Regions from separate parts of the Homo sapiens genome. Here region 2 is linked to region 1. Evidence: fine-mapped expression QTL. A gene starts in region 1. The other region holds a variant in brackets. All regions are shown on one strand. Distances are between the middles of the regions.

Region 1 (5,000 bases):
CATCTTGTACCCATAGAGCTGCCCCAGGGAAACATGCCAGGCTGTGTGGCTGGGATCCTGCCTGTCTCCAGGTGCGCCCAGCCAGAGGCCTTGCTTCTTGGGAGCTGGAAGCCTGGCCAGTCCGACTCTGACCTGTCTGGTCTGGTCCGGTCCGACCCTGTGTTGGTCCCACAGGTTGCTGCTACACTTTCCCTTCTTGAAGCTCCACTGCCATGTTCCAGGACACCCTGTGTGTTCTCATTGCTGCCCCTGGCTGGGCTGGCTTTTGTCTGTAAGCAAAACTTCCAGTACCTTTTCTGGCAGTACCCTGGGGGCTCCTGAAGAACAGGACTGCTGAAAATGGGTGATATCAACAAACTCCGCAGGATTTCCTGGAGCTTAGAGAACTGCATGTGCCCACATCAGGCCCTGAGAAGCCCCCTTAGCTGCTGCAAAGGTTGGGGACATTTTTTGCTGAGTAGGTGAAAGCTGCCAGGGAGGGGGACATATGTGTCCCTAGAGATGGCGGGTCAGCAGGTTGGGGTTTGGGGCAGTCTTCAGGCCTGGAGCCCCGAGTGCCCTCAGGCAGCCTGCTTTCAGATAGAGTCTGAGGATGAGCACGGAGTGCAGGGGTCCCCTTTACCTGCATCCAGGGGTGTGGCCATGTTGCCCCTGACCAGCAGGGCTGCTTTGTTTGGCAGTCATTCATCAGAAAAGTGCACTGAAAGAAGCGCCCAGGGCCTCCCACCTGTGAGACACCACGCTGGGGAAGGGGGCGGTGCAGGTTCTAGGTTTGCATGTGGCAGCTCCTCCAGGCCTCACCCCAGCAGGTGGCACCGTGAGGGTGGGACGGGCCCCACCACTGCTTCCCTCTCACCTGATACCCAATCCTCTGGTCATCTTTCCCGTTCCGTGGCCCCGACTTCTTGGTCTTCGTAGCCAGGTATCTAAGACGTCCTGTGAGGACATCCAGATGGCTGCAATGTGGGGCTGCTTCTAAAGCTTGTTTGGAGTGTGGTGTGTTGGGATGCGCACCTGGTCACTCTCCCTCCCCCGCAGAGGTGTGTGGTTGAGGCCCTTTTGGAATGCCCTGCTGCCTTCCTGGCCAGCCTTTTCTGCGCCTCTGTCTCTGTGGTGGTCTGAGCTGTTGGCTCTCTGCCATGTCTTTAGCCACAGCCCTGCTTGAAGCCCTGAGGCTGAATACCCAGGCACCCGTATATTTCAGTCAAGTCCGCCTTAGCTTCCTGGAGCTGCCGCAACAAAGCAGCGCGAGCTGTGCAGCCTGAAGCAGCGGGAATTCACAGTCTAGGCTCTGGAGGCCGGAGTCTCAGATGAAGGCGCAGGCAAGGGCCCTCAGGTGCGGACGCCTCCTCCCTGCCAGGTGCCTTGCCTGCCTCCCTGTGCTCTGCACAGCAATGGCCCTGCAAGTCTTCTGCATCAGCTTTCTCTTCTGCGGACTCCTGCTCCTCTGGGTCAGGGCCCACGCCTGCTGCTTCTGAGAGCCCCTGTTTGTTAAGGATGCTCTCTGAGGTGCTGGGGTCTTCAGTCCATTGTTTTTTGGGGGGCACAGTTCAACCTGTAACGGCCCAAGGGGTTCTTCCTGCCCGCTGCACACATTCAGACCGTGGATTGCAATAAAGAAAAAAAGTTTAGGGCCGGGCGCAGTGGCTCACACCTGTAACCCCAGCACTTTGGGAGGCCGAGGCGGGTGGATCACGAGGTCAGAAGATCGAGACCATCCTGGCTAACACGGTGAAACCCCGTCTCTACTAAAAATACAAAAAATTAGCTGGGCGTGGTGATGCGCGCCTGTAGTCCCAGCTACTGGGGAGGCTGAGGCAGGAGAATGGCTTAAACCCGGGAGGCGGAGCTTGCAGTGAACTGAGATCGCGCCACTGCACTCCAGCCTGGGTGACAGAGCAAGACTCCGTCTCAAAAAAAAAAAACAAAAAAATTAATAGACACGGGCCGGCCAGGCCACATGTGAGATGGAGTTCGTCCTCAGATCATCTTGTCCAAAGCTCCTAGGTTAGGGGTTTTTTCAAAGGCAGTTTTGGGGGAGGGGGGCGGCGGCCAGGCGACTGGTGCTGATAATCATAGGGGTCGGAGCCGTCCACCTGCTGAGCCGCTTCTGGGGGGTCCTGATGCAGCCACGGGTGTCAGACAAGCAAAGACCCTGGAAGGCGGTCTCTGAGGGGCAGCTCCGCCATGGCGGGTTCACAGGAGGCAGGCAGAGCGCGCCTGCGGCCTCGGGGTGCTGGGCTTAGTGGGGCGCGGGCTCCTCATCAGCTTTACGAAGGCGTTGATTCCGGGGCAAGGCCTGTCATGGAAACTGCAGCCTAAATGTTAAGTCAGCGCGGCCCGATGGCCAGGAGTAACCGGGAGGGCGCCACGGGGTGCGCTACCGCAGCTCGCTGTTGGGGTTTTTCTCAGTGATAGAAATTTTGCAGAGGCGGCTTCAAACCTACGGCTCTGTCACTAACTTGCCGTCTCCAAACCTGCTTTGTGGAGGAGCGGATTTCCCGAAGCCTTCGGTCTCTACGGCCCCGCAGGGAGCAGCGCGTCTGACGCCTGAAGCCCGCCGCGGTCAGCCGGCCGACAGGGGGCGTGGGAGCCTGGCTTCCCAGGGGCGTCCACGGAGGCCAAGGCCCTGCCGGATGTCCCGCCCCGGCACCCCGGAAGGAGTCGCGAGAGAGGCGGCCCGCGCTGACGGTGTCCCTGGGGCTCTGCGCTCGTCCGGCCGGCCCCGGCCTCGCCGCCCCGCGCAGTACCCAGCCCGGCCCCGCCGACCCGCCTCTACTGCCGGCTCCGCGCCCTTCCCCGAGGGCTGGATGATGGGCTGTTTCGCCCTGCAAACGGTGGACACCGAGCTGACCGCGGACTCGGTGGAGTGGTGCCCGCTGCAAGGCTGCAGGCACCTGCTGGCGTGCGGGACCTACCAGCTGCGGCGGCCGGAGGACCGGCCTGCCGGCCCCCAGAACAAGGTGCGCGCGCCGCGGCTTCGGGAGGGGAGGGCGGGGCCGGCCACGAGGTTGAGGCCGAAAGGCGCACCGAATCGCCCAGGAGATGAAGAGGGGATATTGGCCCTTTGGCCAGGAGGTAGGCTGGAAACAGTTTAGAATCTTTTTAAAAAAATTGTTCTCGGCCGGGCGCAGTGGCTCACGCCTGTAATCCCAGCACTTTGGGAGGCCGAGGCGGACGGATCACGAGGTCAGGAGATCGAGACCATCCTGGCTAACATGGTGAAACCCCGTCTCTACTAAAAAAATACAAAACAATTAGCCGGGCGTGGTGGCGGCGCCTGTAGTCCCAGCCACTCGGGAGGCTGAGGCAGGAGAATGGCGTGAACCCGGGAGGCAGAGCTTGCAGTGAGCCGAGATCGCACCACTGCATTCCAGCCTGGGCGATACAGCAAGACTACATCTCAAAAAAAAGAAATTACTTTTTTCTGAGACAAGGTCTTGCACTGTCACCCAGGCTGGAGTGCAGCCTCGGACTCCAGGGCTCAGGGCATCCTCCCGCCTCAACCCCCTGAGTAGCTGGCACCACAGGCACGAGCCACCGCCCCCGGCCAACTTTAAAATCTTGAGAGCAGAACGTCTTCTATATACAGGTGTGGCCCAAGGGAATGGGTGGAATGTACAGTAAAGAGAAAGTGGGAATTATATCTTAACTTCTGGTGGGTACATATTAGGATCCAAATTGGGCACTGGAACAACAGGCGTAAGTCAGGACTGTCCCAGGCAAACTGGGTTCTGTGGTTACCCTAGCCATAGCTGGTCCCTGTTGGCCGGTTTAGAAGGAGCCTTCTCTACTGGGTCCAGGAGTGTTCACCTACTCATTAATAGACGTTTCTCCAGCTCAGAAAACCAGAGGTTCTCCTTCCAGGCAGAATTCCACTCCTTTAGTCATGGCAAACCTTTGAGTTCCTTGGATCCCTTTTCCCATCCTTTGGGTTCCTTCGTGTCTTGGGATAATCAGAGACTACCTCTGCATTTTTTGTAGGGTGGAATGGAAGTTAAGGAGCCTCAGGTCCGTTTAGGCCGTCTCTTCCTGTACAGTTTCAATGACAACAACTCTATTCACCCTCTGGTCGAGGTCCAAAGAAAAGATACTTCTGCAATCCTGGACATGAAATGGTATAACTGTGATAATCCCACTGGGTGTAGAATTTGTCATGAGTAGCAATCAGGGAAGCCTGATGCCTGATGCCTTCAACAAGACAGGCATTGCATCTCAACTTTGGATTTGTTTCTTTGCTGTCCCGCCTATCTTCCACCTGGGGAGTGCTTTACCTGGGGCTTATTTCCTTTGTCATGTTCCAGCCGGGGAAGTGATGGGAGTTTTCTGACTTCATAACCTGGGGCGTCTTTTGTTTGAGAACACAGTTGTAGGCTCTAGCCCACTTTTGGAGCTGAGATTTAAATGCAGTGGTGTGTGGCATAATTATGTTTTGGTCAACAATGGAGCACGTATACCATGGTGGTGCCTTAACGTAATGGAGATGCCCTATACAGGTGTACCAGTTTTTATCCTTTTTAATTTTTTTTTTTTTGAGGCAGGGTTTTGTTCCGTTGCCCAGGCTGGAATGCAGTCACGTGATCATAGCTCACTGCAGCCTTGAACTCCTGGGCTCAAGCAATTCTCTGTCTCAGCCTCTCGAGTAGCTGAGACTTCAGACTTCAGGTAGATGCCACCATGCCTCTTTTTTTTTTTTTTGAGACGGAGTCTCGCTCTGTCGCCCGGGCTAGAGTGCAGTGGCGCGGTCTCGGCTCACTGCAAGCTCCGCCTCCTGAGTTCACGCCATTCTCCTGCGTCAGCCTCCCTAAGAGCTCGGTCTACAGGCGCCCGCCACCACACCCGGCTTATTTTTTTGTATTTTTAGTAGAGACGTGGTTTCACCATGTTATTAGGATGGTCTTGATCTCCTGACCTCGTGATCCACCCGCCTCAGCCTCCCAACGTGCTGGGATTACAGGCGTGAGCCACGACGCCTGGCCTTACCACACCTCATTTTTGTT
Region 2 (5,505 bases), 26 kb before region 1:
TGTTTCCTGGCCAGGCACGGTGGCTCACGCCTGTAATCCCAGCACTTTGGGAGGCCGAGGCGGGCGGATCACGAGGTCAGGAGATCCAGACCCTCCTGGCTAACACGGTGAAACCCCGTCTCTACTAAAAATACACAAATTAGCCGGGTGTGGTGGCGGGCGCCTGTAGTCCCAGCTCTTAAGGAGGCTGAGGCAGGAGAATGGCGTGAACCGGGGAGGCGGAGCTTGCAGTGAGCCGAGATCGCGCCGGCACACTCCAGCCTGGGCGACAGAGGGAGACTCCGTCTCGAAAAAATAAATTAAAAAAATAAAAATAAAAAATGTTTCCTGTGTTCAGATGCACAAGCAAGGACAAGCTGCTGGAGGCTGCAGGCCTCTCTGACTCTAAGGAAGATCATGACTGGGCTGCGTTCTCAAGTGACCACTGGAACTTTCTTCTCCAGCTGGGGCTCCCACCTGTTCAGCAGCCCCTCCCTTGCACCACCTGCACTTGGACCATGAAGACCCACCCACTCCTCATCCTCATCCCAAAGGACTCACGCCTGCCACAGAAGCTGTGACCTGTAAGCCACTCCCCCAGTCCTGTTTCCAAATCTGTATCATGAGAGTAACAACCGTGCCACTTGCCAGGGCGCTGAGGGTTAACTGAGGCTGGCCCGTGGCACGTGGAGAGAATTGCATCGGGCCCACCATGAGTGCTCCGAGAACCACTGTCGGCCCTGGTCGCCCATCCCAGTAACAGCAGAACAAGAAGTGGTCCTGCCTGAACCCCAGCCCTGGACTGGGCCAGCCTGAGCTCCAGAAAACTGCTCCCTCCCAGGCCTCCCTCCGCGTCAGCCCTTTAGACAGCCGGTGTCCTCACGGCTGGGTGCTGACTGTCACCGACACTCATCGGCAGAGTAAGTGAGCAAGCTCTGGGGCCCAGGCAGGGCTGCTGTCCTCCTGGGGGCTGAGGGCCTCCCTACTGGCTCCTAGCAGGATTGACAAGCATCCTCTGAATGAGGAAAAGAAACCATGGTCCTTCTGTTCCCATCCCAGGCAGGGCTGGGGGAAACCCCCGGGGGCCCCGGTACACCCTCCCACCTCACTTGCAGCAGCCTGAATCATGTGCTCTCTGGCCCATCAGGGCCCATCTCCTACTCCTTAGCTCACGACCCTCCTTTTTCTCCCTCATTCAGACCAGCCTCTGTGAGGTAGGACCATCAGCCAGTGCTCCCTCGGCTCTTGGGCCAGCTGCCCAAAGTGCTGGGATTACAGGCGTGAGCATTCAACCCACCCACCACGTCCACCCGGAGGCCAGGGGAGCCTGCACACCCAGGCCAGTCACGCACCGCGGGGCCGTCCCTTCCCTGTGGTAAGCAATGGCCTGCTCACCCCAGGCCACGCCAGGGGAAGGACGACAGGGTCCTGCACAGCCCTCAACCAGGATCCAGCCGGCCTCACCACACACCACACCTGTACCCAAGAGATGTGTGTGCTATCTCTGCCCTGCCACGGCCACACCTGCCCCCACCCAGACCCCAAACTCAAGGTTGGGACAGAGGAAGGGAGGCTGTGGGGTCATCCCAGGAGGCCCAGTGGGGCCAGGAGCCTGACAGAAGCACCTACCACCCGGCTTCTTCCGAGGCCCCACAGCCTCAGGCGGTGCAGGGTCAGGGCCACAGCACCATCACCTGTCCCAGGAGGCTGAGAGGACAGAACAGAGACTGTGGGTTCTCAGCAGGCACAAAATCGGTGCTGTTACCCACGCGCGGGCCCAGCGGTCAAGGTCCAGCGGCAAGTCCAGGGGCTGTGGCACAGGCCAAGCAGCCCAGGTGGTTCCCACAGGAGGCCAAGGTAGAGAAGTCCCCGGCAGGGACGCGGCACTCACAGCCAAGGGCCGGGCAGAGGCAGCCTCACCTCGCGGGCCGGCCCTCACCTCCAGGGCGCCCTGCCAGCGGCCACTGCAGCAACCCGATACCCAGTCCCCGAGGCCCAGGCGTCCACCTCGGCGGGGGGCCGGCGAGGCCTGCTGGCGGGTGGCAGGGGGCGCAGGGAGCCGCAGCAGGTGTCTGCACCCCGCCGGGACCGCACGCCCGCGCCAGGAGCGGCTCTGCAGCGGGAGCGCCTGCGCCGGGAGCCAGGGTGCGGGAAGGAGCCCAGCAGGTGCGAGCGCGGACGGGGAGGGTCGCAGGCCTGCGTGCGCCCGCGCTCAGGGCGTCCTCCACAGTGGACCCGCTTCAGGCCCCGCCGGGACCCCGCCGCCCCTCGGCGAGAGGGCAGGAAGGGCAGACGCGGAAGGGCGGCGCCGCCCGGACCTCCCCGGCGCCGCCGAGCCCGCTTCCCAGCAGTCCCGGGCGGCGAAGACAGCGACTCCGCGGGCCCAACCCGGGGCCAGGCGACGGCAGCCGCTTCCGGGAGCCCTGGCCCCGCGCAGGTGCGGCCAAAGGCCCTCCCCGAGGACCCGCGCCCACCTCGGAACGGCAGCGGTGCCCCCAGGCGCACGCGCACGGTCCCAGCCAACGGCTCCCCGGGGCTGTAGACGACGCGGCCGTGGCTCAGGCTGATCTCGAAGAGCTGCACTCGCCCCATGCCGCGGCCTCACCGGCCAGCCGCGCAGCGACGCCCCCGCCCGCCGCCCGCGAGTCCCGGCTCCGAGGCCCGGCCCCGCCCCCTCCTATGCCCCGCCCCCATCCGTCCCAATCCCGGCCTCCACCCCCATCCGGCCCCTCCCAGGCCCTGCCCCGCCCCACGGCCCCGCCCAGCCCCCCGGCCGCCCCGTAGCCCGCGGACTGCCGCTCGGAGGCCCGGCCCAGCCCCTATTCCCCGCCCCATCCGTCCGTGTGGCCCCGCCCCCTCGTTATTCCCCGCCCCTCTGACAGCCTCCTCGCCCCGCCCCCGCCCTTCGCCCCTGCCTCGCCTTCCCAGCTCCGCCCCTGCCTCGGCCGCCCCACCCCTGCCCCGCCCCCCGGCCGCGCTCATCCATCCCCGGCCCTGGCCCTGTCCCGGCTGGGTAGGTGCTGCGCTGCGTCGGGCGCCGCTTAAGGGACTTGAGGCGCAAGCGTCCCGTGCGTCCCCCACGGAGGGAGTCACCGCCGCGTCTCCGTCGGGGGGC[A/G]GGGCTGGGGGCGGGGCCGAGGCGAGCTCTGAGACTGGGAAGGTCTCCCCGCTGCACTCTGCTGCGGGCAGAACCCACTCCTCCGCCCCCACCCTCCGCCCGTCCCGCCCAGGGGTCTCCCTCACCCCGAGTCGCGGAAAAACGTCACGGGGCCGCGCGGGCGTCCTGGGCGGGGATGCTCCGCCGCGTAGGACCTGCCCCGCCTCAACCCCCACCCCCGGCTCCTGCCCCGCACCCCCAACCTTCTCCGCACCTACCTCGCGTCCCAGCACCTGTCGCGCCCCTCCGGAACCTGCCCGCCCTCCCGCCTTCCCGGTACCTGCCTACCCCCGCAACTGTCCCGGCCCCCAACACCTGCATCGCCCAACCCCTTCCCCCCCCGCCCCCTGCCTTCCCCGCACCTGCCCGGAGTCCCAGCACCTGCCCCGCCCCCCGCTATCCCCCTCCTTGCTGGCCTGATGGGGTGTGGGCCCAAGGGAGCCACACTTGGGCGGAGGCCCTTGGGCAGGGGTCCGCAGCAGAAGGGTCGGGGGCCAGGTGGGGCGAGGACTTGGATCACTTGAAACCAGGAGGAACACACTCCCATTTATCTTTTTTAAAGGGTCCCTTTGTAGAGAGTGAGCCGCGGGGGGTGGGACTCAAATACCCAGGGGACCTAAGGCGGGAGAGACCGGTTGGGTAGTCCTGGAGAGGGAAGGCGTCGCTCGACAAGGACCAGCTCACCACGGAGTGGGTGTGCGGGCCCCAGTGCTGCGAGTTTTTCTAGGACAGCCGGTGAAGAGGGTGGCCTTCTCTGATGGGGAGGACGGACCTAGATACACATGGTTTGGGGGTGGGAGGGTCATCACATGCAGAGTCTGAGGTGCCACTGATCCCCAATGGACCAAGTACTTCCGTGCATGAGCCTGGGAGTCAAGCACTAAAATGTTGCCATCCCTAGTTGGTAGAAGGTAACAGGTCAGGGAGGAGGAGTCTGGCACCCCAGCAAAGAGAAAGGGGCTCACAGGCTGGAGGGGCCCCCGGGCCAGGCTGGGAGAGGCCCTGAAGCCCCAGGCCCAGCTCACTCCCTTAGGATTCCGATGTTTCCGGAGGTGGGTCTAACTGGCCATGCTCCAGACACTTTCCTGCCAAGGCTATGCACAGGCAGAATTCCCGAACAAGAGAGAAGGGTGCCATGGGATGGCAAGGATTGTGGACAGCCCTCCCGAATGGCAGTCGGCCATGCCAGAAGTCAGAAAGAAGGTGTTTCACCGGGCGCGGTGGCTCGCACCTCTAATCCCAGCACTTTGGGAGGCCGAGGTGGACGGATCACGAGGTCAGGAGATCGAGTCCATCCTGGCTAACATGGTGAAACCCCGTCTCTACTAAAAATACAAAAAGAAAAAAAAAAATTAGCCGGGCGTGGTGACAGGCGCCGTGGTCCCAGCTACTTGGGAGGCTGAGGCAGGAGAATGGCGTGAATCCAGGAGGCGGAGCTTGCAGTGAGCCAAGATCACGCCACTGCACTCCAGCCTGGGCAACAGAGTGAGACTCCATTTCAAAAAAAAAAAACAGAAAAAGAAAAAAAAGAAAGTGTTTCAAGCAAGGGACAGACAGACTGTATTGCAAGCTACTGAGATGGAAGACAATGGACACAGAACACAGGTGGCCTTTATCCCAGGTCAGCCACAATCTAAGCCCCACAGGACTCTGCACATCCTTGATTCTGACCCTATCTCCCACCCATCCTGTGTTCCAGAAACCACCACCAGCACCAACCGCCCTGTCATTAGACTCTTCTTCTCCAAGCATACTTCTAGCTGCACTCTCATGAAAACCTGGCTTCCCCTGGAGCTTTCGGGTGTAGAGATATCTTTTCGCAGGATCCCTCTACCTCTGGGTCTGTAGGTGGGGTTGGGGCCCTCCTGGCTCCTTCCTAACACTACCAGGCCATTCTCCACCCTGGGAGCTACCATGTGTAAGCTTCCTGGTCTCAGAATCACCAGCACCACCTTCGCTCTGGTCGGCATCTTCATTTCTTGGTGATTTTAGCTCCTAACTCACTGTCATTCCCTCCATCTCCAAGTGTGGAAACTCAGTGCTTCTGAATCCACACAGGCAATCCTTCCAGCCTCCTGCCCTATATCCTAAAAGTACCTGGGTTTTGTTTGAATCAGGTATAGTAAAGTGACAGACTAGAAGACAAGTGCCACAAAGGAAGGATTTAGTACTCGTGGTTCTCAGGAGGAGGGGCCCTGCCATGCCACGCAGGGCCAGAAGGGGAAGTACCAGGGTCAGGAGGAGCCAGGAGAGAGCATGACCCAGAGCCTTTTTTGTGTTTTCCTCAGGGTGAAAATGGACAAGGCAGGGTAGGTAAGTGTGAGCAAGTTTAGGATTAGATAGCTTGAATCATGTCAGCAGACTCTAGGTCA

Evidence for each region. PIP is the estimated chance that this variant, and not a neighbour inherited with it, causes the effect. A credible set is the group of variants that fine-mapping cannot tell apart.
Region 2: its variant is the best candidate, but not a certain one, in a credible set for the expression of DPH7 in nucleus accumbens (GTEx, PIP 0.50).

Annotation. Positions count from the first base shown.
Region 1 is chr9:137,576,588-137,581,587 of GRCh38, reverse strand. It overlaps DPH7 (diphthamide biosynthesis 7), which reads left to right and starts at 2,663. Exons shown (of 9, transcript NM_138778.5): 1 at 2,663-2,963; 2 at 3,985-4,118. The coding sequence starts at 2,811. RefSeq lists enhancers at 2,258-2,317, 1,412-2,383 and a silencer at 2,568-2,977.
Region 2 is chr9:137,602,784-137,608,288 of GRCh38, reverse strand. It overlaps ARRDC1 (arrestin domain containing 1), which reads right to left and starts at 2,603. Exons shown (of 8, transcript NM_152285.4): 1 at 2,454-2,603. The coding sequence starts at 2,571. LOC124902318 (a long non-coding RNA gene) reads left to right here and starts at 2,951. Exons shown (of 3, transcript XR_007061885.1): 1 at 2,951-2,992. RefSeq lists silencers at 1,932-2,201, 2,212-3,341. The variant A/G (reference allele first, on the strand shown) is at 3,095.